Regions from separate parts of the Homo sapiens genome. Here region 1 is linked to region 2. The links come from fine-mapping of genetic effects on gene expression. A gene starts in region 2. The other region holds a variant in brackets. All regions are shown on one strand. Distances are from middle to middle.

The links. PIP is the estimated chance that this variant, and not a neighbour inherited with it, causes the effect.
Region 1: its variant is the best candidate, but not a certain one, in a credible set for the expression of YAF2 in esophagus mucosa (GTEx, PIP 0.52).

What each region holds. Positions count from the first base shown.
Region 1 is chr12:42,205,740-42,211,124 of GRCh38, forward strand. All of the region lies in intron 2 of YAF2 (YY1 associated factor 2), which reads right to left. Among named protein-coding and RNA genes, the nearest start is that of YAF2, 30 kb to the right of the region's middle. The variant G/A (reference allele first, on the strand shown) is at 1,981.
Region 2 is chr12:42,235,847-42,241,231 of GRCh38, forward strand. YAF2 (YY1 associated factor 2) reads right to left here and starts at 2,402. Exons shown (of 4, transcript NM_005748.6): 1 at 2,309-2,402; 2 at 1,753-1,878. The coding sequence starts at 2,334. LOC124902920 (a long non-coding RNA gene) reads left to right here and starts at 2,599. Exons shown (of 2, transcript XR_007063279.1): 1 at 2,599-2,881; 2 at 3,291-3,432. RefSeq lists silencers at 1,528-1,857, 1,978-2,047, 2,148-2,527, 2,578-2,817, 3,008-3,147 and an enhancer at 1,693-2,194.

The sequences.
Region 1 (5,385 bases), 30 kb before region 2:
CTCTACTCTTTTTTTAGTTTTTTAAATTGAAGAGCTGGCTCATTTATTTTCAATCTTTCAATCTAATACATTCATTAAAGATTATAAATTTATCCCCAAGTACCATTTTTGTGCATCCCTCAAATTTTGATACAACACTTTTGTTGTGATTTAGTTCTAATTATTTTGTAATTTCCATTTTTTTAATTCTTGAAAATTCTTAATCATTTTTCCTTTAATATTGCTTCTCCACTCCTCTGTGTATGCTCTCTTCTAAAACTCCAATTAGACCTATATTGGAACTGCTCAATCTATCCTCTAAGTGTCATCTTTTCTTCCATATTTTTCACCTCTTCATTTTTCTGCATTTCTCTGTGCTTGTCCGGAGGAGTACTCATTTCTTTCTTCAAATCAGTAACTTCTCTCTTTAGCTGTGTCATATCTTCTATTTTACCCATTTATTGAGTTATTTTATTACAAGCTATATTTTTCAAGATTTTAATTGGTTATTTTACATAAATATTTATTGTTTCTGAAGTAACTGTTCTTGTTCAATTATAATGCAATATGCTCTTAGTTAAAAAAAAAAAAAAAAAAAAGTGACGTCTGGCTGGGCGCAGTGGCTCACGCCTGTAATCCCAGCACCTTGGGAGGCTGAGGCGGGCAGATCACCTGAGGTCAGGAGTTCGAGACCAGCTTGGCCAACATGGCAAAACCCCATTTCTACTAAAAATACAAAAATTAAGTGGACGCGGTGGTGCACACCTGTAGACCTAGCTACTCGTGAGGCTGAGGCTGGAGAATCGCTTGAACCCAGGGGGTGGAGGTTGAAGTGAGCCGAGATAGCGCCACTGCACTCCAGCCTGGGAGACAGAGTAAGACTCCATATTAAAAAAAAAAAAAAAGTAACTGAAATTTTAAGCTAAATCACCTTAGACAAACTGTTCTTTGAAAAGTTCTCCATTATAAATCACTTCTTTAATGACAAAAAAAAAATCACTTTTTAGGAATTCTCTTGGCTGCTATTCTGCCAAATGTTATCCCACTGTGCCTACCTGCTTCAAGGCATGAAAAGTTCTATTATTCCCATTTTAGAATTGGAGAAATTGAAGCACAATAAAGTTCTCTTTAAAACACTTTCTCCTCATCTTTTTTTAAAATTTCAAAGCCATAGAAAAGTTGAAAGTACAATGACCCATATACCTTCTACCCAGATTCAAAATTGTTAACATTTACAACGTTTGCTTTACCTTTTTTCTCTCTCTCTCCATATACTTGCACACACCACACCCAAATATCCACACACTTTTTTTTCTGAACCCACTCCTGAGCCCAACATGATACTTCACTTGGAATATTTCAATATATTTCTCCAAAGAATAAAAGCACTCTCAATATAACGACCATATCATTCACACCAAAGAAACTATGAGATTGAACAGAATCGTACAAAGACATGCAGCAGTAGATTCAAAACTAGTATTTAAGTCATCTGACTAAATGCTCTTTATCTTGGCTTGTCTAATGATTGGACAAACTGCTTTCTGATGATTATTTAGAAGAGACAATCTGTCAAAGAGCATTTCCTTCCTTCATTTCTGAAAAGAAAGCAATAATCTTCTAAGATATTCAAACTGCAAAAATCAAGGATACTGTATTTCCACTTTGTTTTCTAACACTAAATCTTTAAGTGAAGCTACTCTATACTCTCAAAACTATATACTCTTTTTATATGCCACAAGATAAATTATTAATAATATTATACTAAATAATTAGAATTTCACTATACCAGCTTTTAAAGGGAAAAATTGTTTTTAAGAAAAAAATATGGTACAAATAAGATTGATGAGCCAAATGAAACTGCTTTATACATTAAAAAACTGGTAAGTGTAGGCTGGGCACGGTGGCTCATGCCTGTAATCCCAGCACTTTGGGAGGCCGAGGCGGGCAGATCACAAGGTCAGGCGATCAAGACCATCCTGGCTAACACGGTGAAACCCC[G/A]TCTCTACTAAAAATACAAAAATTAGCCGGGCGTCGTGGCGGGCGCCTGTAGTCCCAGCTACTTGGGAGGCTGAGGCAGGAGAATGGCGTGAACCCAGGAGGCAGAGCTTGCAGTGAGCCGAGATCGTGCCACTGCACTCCAGCCTGGGCGACAGAGCGAGACTCTGTCTCAAAAAGACAAACAAAAAACTGGTAAGTTTATTCATAAATCTATATGAAAAGCTAATATTTCAGTGGGGATGATTTAATCTCAGTCACTGATGTTAGGAACTAGGTAATATAAACCATAAAATCCTATGCTTGCTCTCAAAGAACCTAAAAACCCAGTTTAAGAGTTGCATATTTTTATTACACAACATACCTGTGTAAAAAATAAAATAATAAATTTTTTAAAAAGAGCTGTATATTTTTAAAAAATAGCAATATGGCCAGGCGCCATGGCTCATGCCTGTAATCCTAACACTTTGGGAGGCCGAGGCGGGCAGATCACTTGAGGTCAGAAGTTCAAAACCTGGCTAACATGGTGAAATCCTGTCTCTACTAAATATACAAAAAAGCTAGCCAGGCCTGGTGGCAGATGCTTGTAATCCCAGCTACTTGGGAGGCTGAGGCAAGGGAATTGCTTGAACCTGGGAGGCGGAGGTTGCAGTGAACGGATATCATGCCACTGCACTCTAGCCTGGGCGATCGAGTGAGACTCTGTCTCACTTTATTTTAAAAAATAAAAATTAAATTAAATTAAATTAAAATTTAAAAATAGCAATACAACCTAAAGCTAATATTTAAGGGCTAAACTGTATCATTCAGCTAACTATAACCACAAAAATGGTTAAGATCAATCTATAGCCAAACACTAGCCAATAAGGGTATTAACTGGGTGCTGCTAAGGTACTGTATTAAATAAATTCCATGAATTAATAGTCTTACAGACATCCCACTTTTCTACTGAAGAACTGAAGATAACAAATATACTAGCATAAAAGGACTGATAAAAGGGGTAAGACTTGCCTCAACTCTAAAGTACAGAAATCAGAATGCAGAAAAGGCTATCTGAAGAAAGTGAGAAACCACAAACCAAGTGTAAATATAACTATGCAGGTAAGAACAAACAAAAGTTTCAAACTGAAGAAATTAAGGCTAGATAAACAGAATGGAATTGGATAGCAGGAGGCCTCAAGTATCCAGCAAACGGATGAAAGTTTTGTAAAACAGCTATAAGCAGGACACCACTACGAGCTCTTTATATTTAAAATGCCTTTTTAGAAATAGAACCTAGTAATAATACAAAATGAGTGGGAGAGAAATGAGAAGCAAGAAACTATATAGTAACATTTACAAATATCAATTCAATAAGTTATTTGGTACCTGAGGAAATCAGGCAGCTCAAACTGAACCAATTCTGTCACAATTCACATCAAGTATTTTCATTACAAACAAGGAAGCGGTAAATAGACTTGCAACATATCCTATATTATTTTTCAAATATACTTTCAATGAAGTTCAAGATACATTGAAAACTGTCATTAAGAAGTGCTAGGAAAAAAAAAAAAAAGTGCTAGTCAGGCCAGGAGCAGTGGCTCACACCTGTAATCCCAACACTTAGGGAGGCCAAGGTGGGCAGATCATTTGAGTTCATGAGTTCGAGATCAGCCTGGGCAACATGGCAAAACCCCATCTCTATAAAAAATAAAAAAATTAGTCAAGCATGGTGGTGTGCAACTGTAGTCCCAGCTACTCAGGAGGCTGAAGTGGGAGGATGGCTTGTGCCCAGGAGGCAGAAGTTGCAGTAGGCCAAGATCACACCACTGCACTCTAGCCTGGGCGATAGAGCCAGACTTTGTCTCAAAAAAAAAAAAAAAAAAAAAAAAAAGTGCTAGACAATTAATATAAAACTATCCTTGCTGGTCAGTACTACTGTGCCAAAAGAAATTCACCAAATATGACATCTGCATAAATTTTACAATATAAGTATTTACTTCAAAAAAGCAACATCATAAAGAAATGTACACAAGAATTCAACATTTGGCTTCCCTATATTGCTTTAGAACAACTAAACCATTTACCAAAGCCAGTAAATGCATAATTTTTTGTTTTTTGAGACAGAGTTTCGCTCTTGTTGCCCAGGTTGGAGTGCAATGGCACAATCTCAGCTCACCGCAACCTCTGCCTCCTGGGTTCAAGCGATTCTCCTGCCTCAGCCTCCCGAATAGCTGGGATTACAAGCATGCACCACCATGCCCGGCTAATTTTCTATTTTTCGTAGAGACAGGGTTTCTCCATGTTGGTCAGGCTGTTCTCGAACTCCCGACCTCAGGTGATCCACCCGCCTTGGCCTCCAAAAGTACTGGGATTACAAGTGTGAGTCAGCAAGCCCGGCCAACTAAATGTATAATTTTTTAGAAGCAGCTATTACGTAAATAAGATACTTTAAAATTAATGTCATACTTTTTACTCATACACCCATTAATAGCTCAGTATTTACTGTCCACACAATAATTTCCATAATCCATATCAAATGTACAAAAAGAAGCTATCCCAAGTAACTTCCTTTCTTTTCAATTAAACAAACTCCTTCTCAAGGGACAAAATTTGGGGGGAAAAAAAATCTCAGGTTTGTGAAAACTAGATTACTTACCAGTAACTTGAGTTATCCTATTGGGTCTTTTCCCTCACAGATCCACCTCTCTTGCCCTTCTGTTCAGCATGAGAATCTTCCTGATGGGCATCCACTGGAACTGAGGGGGCATGCAGTACAGACGTATATGTAAGAAAGTTTGGGGGAGGGGATTTGGGAGATGCTAGAGACATGCTTCAGTGCACTTGCTTACCTTCCTGAAATTGGAAATTTCAACGGTTCCTTGGTCCTCGAGGCACTCACAATAACTTCAAACAATGTGGATCTGTGGAGATTACCCAATAGGAGAACTCCAGTTACTGGTAAGTGATCCAGCTTTTTCTTCTCTATCAGAATAAGAAGATTATTTCATTTTATTTGAGATTATTATCACACGTAGAACTACAGAAGAAAGCATAAATTCACTAGATAACTATATATACACGTATCAAAGTAAATATGGAAACAATTTGCTAAATATAATGTCAGTGGAAACTTCTCACATTATCAGAAACATAAGGAAATCATTAGAATGGTTTCATTTTAAAAAGTCTACTATAATGGCTGCTATATTTTAATATACAAAAATATCAGCCACCAGGCTATTTCATTTTGCTGAAACAATATCATTATATTTTATATTAGTACAAGAATAATTAGTTGATCAAAATCTATCATTTCTTAACTAGCCATTGTCATTAACATTCACTAGATTTTGGTATAGAAGCCACCATAGTGGACTAATAATATGTTAGAATTCAGATAAAATGCATCAATACAATTCTCATTTT
Region 2 (5,385 bases):
GTGTACTATATTCCTTCTTCTTCCAGGTGCCAGGTATTCAGCCTGTTTCTTCTCTTCTGAGCTGCCACCACCTACTCTATTTCTCAGGGTTCCTCTAACCCCAAGACTGGCTGTGGAGTAGGACACCAGCTTCCCCCCTTCCTTGCTGTCCCTGCAAATAAACATATAGGCTCTTCTAGTTTCAGTATTTTTCTAATGGCTACAAGAAAATAGAGAGGGAACAACAAAAAGCAATAATATATAGTACCAGAGATCAAGATTATAATTGTTTCCACTTTAATGTTCCTGCCTCCAAAAAACGAATTTTCTAAAAATTGCTTATTGAGCATTTTAAAAAGCACAAAGTACTAACACAGATACACAAATATACTCTAAACCAACTCCAACCTTACACAGCCAAGAAGATACTCTGCTTTTCAAAATACTTAAATCACAAATCACGGGTCCAAAAATAGTAACCACAATCATTTTAGCAAATACTTTTTTTCTTTTTGGAATGTTCTGTTGTAATCCCTTAAATTTAGCATACGTTTGAAAGTTTGCTTTTTGAATATGAAAAATGTACGAAATATTTTATCAATTGTGGGAATATACAAAAAGCATATGATGATTTACAAAAAACAAGCATGTCAAAACCAGCGAGCTTCACTGAGAAATTTTTCAGATAAGTTACTGTCAACCATTCCTGTCTCTAAATTTTAAACTTAATAAAATTCTGTAAAGTGTTTTTTAAAAAATCAAGATCTCATTTTTTAGAAATCTAACGTCTACTGAATATTTGTATATGTCAATATTACATGTGCCTTCTTTTTTAAAGCAACAGTAAGATTAGTATGCTTATTGTTATAGTTTAGTTTCTAATGGACTTTGTAATATCAAAATACATATCTTCTCTAAATATTAAGTAATAAATCACAGGATTATATTTAATTCAAAGGGTACCTTCGTATAAGAATCAAGGAGCTCGATAACTAAGTGCTGACAGATTAAGAATGCCACTGACTGAATTTCCTGGATGATTTTCTTTATTCACTTAATTCAAAGTCATTTTTTAAAAGACAGAGTTATTATACTGCAAGCTTACAATAAATAAAGTCTGAAAATAGGCAGAGATCTTTTCATCTCATTTGTCTAAGAGACTGCCATTTAATCAAACTAAAGATATAAAGGTACTTTCAGTAAAAATCTGTTCCTGTGACTGGGCTCATCTCCAACTACTTATTTATAAAATATTAGAGTACTGGAATAAAAACACTAAATAAAACCTTGATCTGACCCTTCCAGAAGTACATGTAGAAAAATAAGTTTTAATATATTGTGTATTCTGCAATCAGATACTTTTCTTTCTTTAGGAACGAAATTAAATTACATCCTTTGCTCCTAAAGAGATTTTATGGGTTTTCCTTGATCCCCACACACTAACACAACAATGCAGCCAACATTTTTATACCCAGAATGGGGAGAGGGGCATTACACCCAGCGATACGAATTAAATCGCAGTAGCTAATGCCTCCCTTAAATAATTTATTCTCTCTTGGCAGCAAAAAACGTTACAGCCTCTTCAATTACCCCTCACCGCAAACCATCGCCTGGGTTGCGATCAATGTGACCCAGTTCCTATCGCCACAGCCACCTCCGTCTGCCTCCTCCCGCCGGGTCCGCCAGTGTCATGGGAGGGGGCGGCAGCCGCAAGGGCGTCCTCTGGTCGCCACCCCGCCGGCCGGCGGCGCGAGGGGCAGGCCCGGGACTCACCGGGTGGAGGTGCCCTTCCGCACATCGCACATCATGCACTTGAAGGCCTCGGCGCTGTTCCGGAAGGTGCAGACGCTACAGTCCCAGTAACCCTCATCCGAGGACGGCTTCGGCTGCCGCTTCGGCCTGCAGGACACAACCCGGACACGACGCGGCGCGGGGTCACCAGCAGGCCGCGCCCGGTGCCCGGGCCCCGCGGCCGCCCCCGCCCCGCCCCCCGCCCCAATTCTGCGACCCCCGCCCCGCGGGCCCTCGGCGCGCCGCGCTCCGGCTGAGGGGGAAGGGAGTCAGGAAGAGGCAGGGCGCGAGCGCGGCCGCAGTCGCCGCCGCCACAGCCGCTCTGACACCCGGGCGGCCGCTCCGGTCGCCGCCGCCATCGCGGCTCCATTGTGGGGCGGCCGGCGCCGGCCCCCTCAAGCGGCAGCACTCGCACACCAGCGGCGCTGCCCCCGTGCTCGCCCCGGTGCCCGGGCGGCTAGCGAGGCGGCCACCCGAAGCCCTGCACGAGGGCCCTGCCGCCCGCACAGTCCGGGCCCCGGGGCCCGGGCGCTGTTACCTGGTGGGGCTCTTCTTGTCTCCCATGGCTTGGCTATCACCGCACGCCGAGAGTCGCCGCCGCGACCGCTCTGTTTGTCAATAAGGAGGATAATAAGCCGGGCGGAAGCGGGCGGGGGAGGAGGGAGGGAGGGGGCGGGGAAGGCCGCACCGCCGCGCTCGGGAGCCGCCGCCGGATCCCACGCAGCCTCCAGCTGTCGGGGAAACTCCTGCCTGGGCGCACGTGACCCTCGCCGGCCAACCAGCAGCCGCGCCGGAGACTTCAAACGCGGCCAGCGCGGCCCAGCACCCGCGGCGAGTTAGCCGGCGGGCGGTGCGGGGGTGGCCGCGGTGGCCGCGGCTGCCTCGGGCGCCGGCGCCGCCTCTCCGCGCTGTTCCCCCGTTGCCCCCTTGGTACCCCCGGCTGCCGGGGACTGCCTCGCGCTCCAGAGCCCCTCTGAGGAGGAAAACGTCTGTCCCACCGACTGGCAGGGGATGCTCCGTCATCCCGTGCGAAGCCTGGTCCAAGGTAGGGCCGGCCGGCGTTCGGAGGCCTGTCCAGGTCTGGACAGAAGTGCCAGCCCGGGATCTCCAGGTAGAACGACTTTCCTGGCCTCCGCTGTCCTTAGCTACCCAGCCCCCGCCTGCAGTATACCGGGGGGAAGGCGGGAACCAACACGCAGCGCCATTGCTACATGCCTTAAAGCACTGTCTGGTTTATGCACACAGATGCTCTAACAAGTAGGGATTGTCAACCCTAACTTAGAGGAATTGAAATCAAGACTCAAGAGAGATTAGGTGACTTCCTCTAGGCTATATAATTAGAAAATGACAAAGCCAAGAGTCTAACTCTGTTTTAATTCCAAACGCGCCCTTTTGGCCTCTCAGGCCTCTGCAGTAGCTGCTTTTGAAAGAAACCCCTATATACTCATAAGTCCTTTTTAAATATAAGGAGTTTGCATGTCCCCTCAACGCTGTCTGCTAACAAAAGAACACCTTCCCAGGTCTCTACGTCAACATACTAAAGGTCCTCATACTCCAGACTCCAGCAACAGCCATCTAACTGGTCTCCGAAGCTCCACTTCTACCTCCCCAATGTATTCAGTAATCCACAACCAGATTAATAATAAAATGCTGTTAATACTATGCCACCACTCTGATAAAGAACCACTAACGACTTGCCCACACTCCTTAGCCTGGCATTCAAAGGCTTCACACATTTTCCCTACCTCTGCCTCCCTCTCCCATAAGGAAAGCTGCCTCCTGACAAAGAGTGCAGATGAAATTCATTCCCTTACCAGAACCCTTCCTTCATGCACATGGGTTACTTCTGCATAAAGTATATCCCTCTTTAACTGTGCTGTTTCTGTCCATCTTTCTAGGTTTACATCAAGTCCGAATTCATGTAAAATAATTTTATAGCTAAACTACATAGGAAATAATACAGTCAGAAGCCCAGGATTCTCAGCCTGCTTCTCCTGTTTCTTAGCTGATAGACCTTGGAAGTATTGCTTAATTTCTGTAATTCTCAACGTTTTCATATTCTGAATTGCATCTATATGAGATTGTTGTGCGATTAATAATAACATTTTTTGGCCGGTTGCGGTCGCTCACGCATGTAATCCCAGCACTTTGGGAGGCCGAGGCGGGCGGATCACCTGAGGTCAGGAGTTCACAAGACCAGCCTGGCCAACGTGGCGAAACCCCATCTCTATTAAAAAATACAAAAATTAGCCAGCTGTGGTGGCGGGCGCCTGTAATCTCAGCTACTCGGGAGGCTGAGGTAGGAGAATCGCTGGAATCCGAGAGTGAGAGGTTGCTGTGAGCCGAGATCGTGCCACTGCACTCGAGCTTGGGCGACAGAGCGAGACTCCGCCTCTAAGTAAATAAATAAATAACATTTTTTTGAGCACTATGTGCCAGGCACTTTGTAAATCCCTGCGCATAGATGCATATTTTAAAGGACTCAAAGTACTATGCACATGGCCTCATCGACTGCAGATGCTCTTCGATTTAGAAAGGGGATACTTCCCGATAAATCCACCTTAAATAGAAAATATTGTAAATTGAAAATGCATTTGGTACACCGATAAATCCATCGTAAAGTAGAAAAATCGTAAGTCGAGCCATTGTAAATCCGTAGTCTAGCCCTTCTTTTTAAAGACAAGGCAATTAGGGCCCAGGTTAAATGGTTTTTCTTTGATGAGCAGGCCAGGGTTAGAGCTCAGGTATCCTATTGGTCTTTCACCGCATCTTCTTTCTGATTAACCAAATCACTCCATTTACATAGCAGTCTCTAAACTCGTTGTACCATCTGTACTTTTTGCAAATGTAGCTTCTCATGATTCAGACCCAAATTCGGAAACCAGGAACCATGAGGAGTATGATTGAGGCACGTATACAAGAGAACCAGATTTAAGGCCTAGTCTTTAACCTCTCAGTAATGCAGTGGGTAAACTCAGCTAAGTTTTTTTCATATGTAAAATAAAGGAGTTAAAACTATTATCACAACTAAGGTCCCTTGCAAGTCTAAGGCATTGTGATGTTTTTAAATGCCTCAACTGGATGGATCCTCAAATAGACTGACAAGAACTGCTCTACTTGCAAAAGTGATGGCAACAATGTATTTTTAAATAAAAAGGAAACTAAATCAAGCACTCTAAAAATCCCCCATGCTGCAAATCACCATTTCACTAGATTGTAACCTCCCTCACTAAAAAGTAAGCCGCACCTCTGAATCATGAACAAAAAGCACAATAACTTTTGTTGCCTTTATTGCTGCATCTCCAGCCCCTAGAACAGTGTGACACATAGTGGGCACTCAATAAATATTCTGAGAATAAATACATCCACTTATAGTCAGGTTAGCGCGCGCCTGTATTCCCAGCTACTTGGGAGGCTGAGGCAGGAAGATAACTTGGGCCCCGGAGTTCCAGACCAGCCTGAGCAACAAAGCCAAGACCCTGTTTCTAAACTAAATAATCAATACATTCACTTGTGTTACAATTGTTGAATGAGATTTTTTTCTTTCATATTGGGATTTACAAACTGTTAGGCATATTGCATGCAGTGGATGGTCAATAAATGCCAGAATTAACA